2 separate regions of the Homo sapiens genome follow, and region 1 is linked to region 2. A link means that fine-mapping ties the variant in region 2 to the expression of a gene that starts in the linked region. Tissue or cell type: whole blood. Region 2 holds a variant in brackets; the other region holds the start of a gene. All regions are shown on one strand. Distances are between the middles of the regions.

Evidence for each region. PIP is the estimated chance that this variant, and not a neighbour inherited with it, causes the effect.
Region 1: it holds the start of ARL5A, and the variant in region 2 is fine-mapped to the expression of ARL5A in whole blood (INTERVAL, PIP above 0.99). The same link has a PIP of 0.9 or more in non-classical monocytes.

What each region holds. Positions count from the first base shown.
Region 1 is chr2:151,827,107-151,829,864 of GRCh38, reverse strand. It overlaps ARL5A (ARF like GTPase 5A), which reads left to right and starts at 1,444. Exons shown (of 6, transcript NM_012097.4): 1 at 1,444-1,734. The coding sequence starts at 1,689. RefSeq lists an enhancer at 1,119-1,168 and silencers at 1,219-1,728, 1,779-1,828.
Region 2 is chr2:151,636,207-151,638,913 of GRCh38, reverse strand. It overlaps NEB (nebulin), which reads left to right. Exons shown (of 182, transcript NM_001164508.2): 64 at 2,580-2,687. Among named protein-coding and RNA genes, the nearest start is that of NEB, 97 kb to the left of the region's middle. The variant T/C (reference allele first, on the strand shown) is at 1,210.

The DNA of each region.
Region 1 (2,758 bases), 190 kb before region 2:
CAGGAAATGGTAAGACTCCACCTGTTCCTTTCTCTTTTGCAAAGAATCACAGTACTGTGATGTGTTTTTCAATATCTGAAATGTCGTTGCCTGTACTTTGTGCAGTTTTCTATTTGCTAATGGTAGGAGGATATATTCAAACCATCCTACTCTCTCATGCCTGAAGTCAGAAGTCTCTCCAATGACATTTTGCATTTCTCTGTAATCATAGATAAATTGGTCTTTAAACTCTCTGTCTCTGTCTCTCTCTCTCTCTTCTTTCTTCACTCGGAAAATAACCTGGGAGACCATTTCCTTGGGTAGATTGTAAAATATGAAGCTCCGCCATCACATAATGTGTATATGACATCCATTTCATAAGTTGACATCTGTGTGGGAGTCTGAAAAAGTCTTAGAGCTACCAAAGCATTACCTACGGTGTGCGAGAATGGAAATATTACAGAGTTAATGCAAATTGGTTATACAAACTACATTGTTCTTCTAAACAGTGTACAGAATATTAAGTAAATCCAGACATGATAATACATAAATTAATATGGATTACTATGATTTTCCTTCCCTTCATGTATGGCTCCTCTAAACTTTGGCTTTTTAACCATAAAGCCCCAAAAGAAGTCAACGAAATTACTTTTCTATATTTTGAGGTAAAATACTGGGTAGTTAGGAGAAGTGAGTTGGGAAGGTGCGGTTTATTGCTGATTTTGCTTAATTTCATTCAGCTGTTGGGGATGGGAGTGCAAAGCAGTTCAAATGGCTCCTACAAGTCTCCCAATTTTTCTTTATTTTCCTTTTTACTAAGGTTAACGAGAACAGAAAGGGATGGAGCTTTGGTGGCCACTAAAGGTTTTTAAACAGGGTAGTGACTTGATCAAAATCGTTGTTTTGGGCAATACTGACGTGAGAGTTAAGAGATTGGAGAGAAAAGAGCCCTGAAGTGCAAAAATGGCTTTAAGGTGACTATCTAGGTAAGGCCACTGACTTCAGCTGAGTGTCAGAGGGCAGCAGACTTTTCCCTCAAAGACCCACAGGGGACACAATGTCTTAAAGAGTCATGACGTGGAACTTTAAGTGTAGTGTATGTGAAGGGTTGGGGATGGACATGGGGTACTCAATTATATGTTTACATTATGGCGCAGTGGAGAAGATTCGAGGGAAATATAAATACTCGGGGACGCAACAGCAAGCAGTCGGAAGCCATCTGCCCCAACTTGCGGTCTTCACAGCCTCAGTCCCAGGGTAAAGTCCTGCGCCTTCCGCAGTCTTGGTTATGCAAATAAGCGAGGACAGGGCGGGCGCCCTTTCCTACGCTCCGCCCCTCTGGCCGCGCGCCTGCGCACTCACGTCCCTCCAGGCCCGCCCCTTCACTTCCCCCGCCCGCGTGGTCGTCGCCACCGCAGCCGCCCGAGAGGAGCTGGGGGAGGACGGTGGCCCGCGAGGCTCGTCGCAGACAACGCGGCGGCGATGTCCGCGAGCCAGGCGAGTGCCGCGGCGGCAGCGGCGGGGCCTTGCGCGCGGCAGGGCGGCCTGGGCTTCGGCCTCCCTCCGGTTCCCTGGAAGCGGGCCCGCGACCAGCGCGGGAGCAGCAGCAGAGGCGGAGGCTCCAGCGCGTCTCTCTCCTCCCCCTCAGCCTGAGCCGGGGGAAGCCAGGCGGCCCGGGTGTCTGGAGGGGGGGGGTCCGCTGCCCGAGAATGGGAATTCTCTTCACTAGAATATGGAGACTGTTCAATCACCAGGGTGAGGAGCTCGGTCCGCGGGCGTACGGGTTGGGGAGAGGGTCAGCTCGGGCCGGCTAGGTGGGGGTCTCCGAATACTTCGGAATGTGGGCGGCTCGGTCGGGCGCCAGCTCAGCGCGGGGTGCAGGCTGCGCGGATACGGGCCCGGGACGGTTCGGTCCCGGCTCCCGAGCTTGGGGATGGTTCCTGACTCGCAGCCCTTTGTCTTAGGAGACCTTCCTAAGAAGTCTTTTCCGTAATAGACCCATTGCTCCGATTTCGAATGAGAGTGGTAAAGGTTTCTTGCCCTAGGTCCGACGTCCCTGAGTAGCACGGCCTGGCCTGTCTTTCAGCCCTTTCTTTGCTCACCAGTTGTGTTTGGACACCACATAGAAGTGCTGGGGTCTTCTGGAATGAAGGTTATAGATTGCTGCCCTAACCGCACCACTGAGCGACCGAGGGTTGCAGAATGCGGAAAACGGGAGGAATCGCTCGACTTGTCCATTACACCTCTGGTTTATGAGCCTGCCCTCCACTGCCACCCGTCTTTGTGTGTGTTGGGGGCAGGGGGGGTTCTTCTGCCTCCTGAATAGAGATGGACTTCTCTCCATTTGTTTTACTTATTATATCTGTGTTTAAGGTTAAGCTTAAGGTCATTTTTCTACTCGTGTGGGTTATTAGACACAGTTTTTGTTTGTTTTGCTGGGTTAAAAATGTTAAAGTGTTTCACTGAAAGTTTTAAAAACATACCATATGAAACATTTGTTAACCATAGGTAACTAGCAAGTTACTAAGTGTAAAGTGTGTTATATAGGGATGCTTAAGTTCAGCCAACTTCAGACATGGCCATGAAATACCTATCAGGCTTGTTAAAATTTGTTACAAAATGACTAAAACTGGGGAAAGAGAATACAATTTTAACCCAAAGACTGGATACTTATTAAGATACAGTGGTGTACTTTTGTTTCTTTTTAACTCAAGTTGGGTGGTTCATCATTCCGCTGTCAGGAACTTAGTTTGTGTTTTTCTGTTGTGTAAGCTGATGG
Region 2 (2,707 bases):
AGGATCCAAATTTAAGATTTTTAGTATATAAGATTAAAGGCAAGAACTAAAATCCACAGTACTACCAGGTAACCCACACACACACACACACACACACACACACACAGAGAGAGAGAAATATCTGTCAGTGTAAATATTAGCAAGCCCATTTCCTTTCACTTTCAGTGTGCACAGGGCCACGTGCCATCATTCCAGAATCATAGAGGCTTAGGCAGAGAGTCAAGCCTCCACCCTAGTGCAAAGGTACCCCTCCCCACAAATAGGTTTTTGACCTGCCTTTGCTTAAGGGTTCCCAGTGACAAGGAGCTGATCTCATAAATCAGTCCATTCGTTCTGGAAAATTTATGAGAAAGCTTCTGATGTATTGAGTCACAACATTTCTCTCTGTAAACTCACATAGTCCTCTGAAGCTGCACAGAACAAATCTGTGCCAACCCCCAGAGATGGAGAGCAGCACCAGGGTGCCTCCCCTGCCACCTTCACCCCAGGTTCACCTTCAAATCCAATATCCCAAGCTGCGGGGCATTCCTCACATGACATCACTAGTAAAATGTGACTCTCAGAACTGAGCAAAATACTATGAGTGGGGAATGACTGATGTAGAATACACTTAACTATCGTATTTCCTCTTCTGGACATATGACCTCTATTCTGCATCCTGTGCTCCCAGGATACATTGGCAGCTGTCACTGCTGGTGCACACAGAACTTGAGACCAACTTAAACTCTAAGACATCTTATGTGGACTAAAGTTAGGTTTCTTCCATCCTGCATTTATGCGTTTGGTAATTTATCTCTGTTCAAAGATTGGCATTTATCTCTGTAATTTCTTCTTCTTAGACTGAGCCTGTGGGTATAAGCCTGTGGAGATTTTTGTGAATCTAAGATTCTGTCAGCTGATGTGTTAGTTATTTCACCTGGCTTTGTGCCACCAGCAAGGAAAATATTGTTTATTTGGCAGCATAAATCAACACACAGAGCATAATTTAGAGAATTTAGATGGAATTGCCACCATCTTAAGTAATTATTTTGGAAGTGAGACTGTAATTTTAGTGCTTGTATAGCTAGCTTTTAATTGTCACCAAAAACTAAAAACATCAAGTCTTACTCCCCTGTCAGAAAGGACTGAATTATTAGCCAAACCTATAATATAGGTCCTGTTACAGGAAACCATGCATTACATGTGCAAGAATTTCAGGAAACAAAGGGC[T/C]CCCCCTGTGTCTAGCTAGTCAGCATTTCTGGATTTCTCAACTCTGTCTTTGCTGAAAAAGCTCAGAGATGTGTTAGTGCGGCTACTCGGCTGCCAGTCCCAGGAGGCCCAGGTGCCCTTCCCCATTTTGCCCGCAACCCCCTATTCCACCCACCCAGACTGGGACGCTGCCATGGGCGCTCCCCTCTGATGTTAAAAAGAAGAGAACTTTTTGGCTGCTTTCCTATTTTCTGTAGAATTAAACACCAACTTCTTAGAATGAGGCGTTCACAGTCCAACTCTGGGCTATTCTCAGCCCTCTCCTGTGAACTCCTCCCTGGGGCCTCACCCACTTCCTTCAACACCCCTCCGCTTCCCCTCCACAGTGGTGCCTTGATTCACGTGATTTCCTCTGCACTTGATGCCACCTTAGTCTACTGAAACTCTGCTCAAAGTCTAACTCAAAGGTCACCCCATCTTCAAGAACTTCCCTGATTCTCAGTTCAGAATAAATGACTCCTTCCTGGAGCTCTTCATTATTAGTGTGGTTTGACTTTTCAGCAGTTGCTTCCACAGGTTATCAGTCTCTCCATCAGTTCTCCCAGGAACCTTTAGGTTGAGAGGGGTCTCAACCTCATCTTTGATTCCCAAGTACCCCGCACAGTCAGAGACACAGGGTCAGGGCAGAATAAATGTGAGTTGAATTGATTGCCATGATCAACAGTTAAGCCTTTCCCTCCCACCCACATTTTACCATGCTAGAACTATGAGTTTCAGCTTAATTTTTCCTGTAATTTTTAAACTGGATTTATTGTTTTAACTAAAATTTTTTAAAACAACCTGTAATATGTATATATACTTAATTCAACATAATTTTTAAAGTAAAAAATAAAGGTGCATTGGGCTTTATGGGTATCTTTTTTTTTTGTTTTGTTTTGTTTTTTGAGATGGAGTTTCACTCTTGTTGCCCAGGCTGGAGTGCATTGGCACAATCTCAGCTCACTGCAACTTCCGCCTCCCAGGTTCAAGTAATTCTCCTGCCTCAGTCTCCCAAGTAACTGGGATTGCAGGCATGCACCACCACACCCAGCTAATTTTTTTTATATTTAGTAGAGATGGGGTTTCACCATGTTGGCCATGCTGGTCTCGAACTCCTGACCTCAGGTGATCCACCCGCCTCTGCCTCCCAAAGTGCTGGGATTACAGGTGTGAGCCACCACACCTAGCCTCATTTTTGAGTCTTCACTTCAACAAACATGCAGAAGGCTTAGAACTCTCAAAAGAAAGATTATTATAGGCACTGTCTGTGGAGAACTTAGTGAATTGTCTTAGTCCTCTGTCAGTTTTTAGATATAAATGTCAGCATCTGATTTTTTTTCCCCCAAATTTAGAGTCTGTACAAACTTGCTAATGAAGAAGCAAAGAAGAAAGGCTATGACTTGCGAAGCGACGCCATCCCCATCGTGGCGGCCAAGGCCTCCAGGGACATCATCAGTGACGTGAGTTGTCAATTCCATTC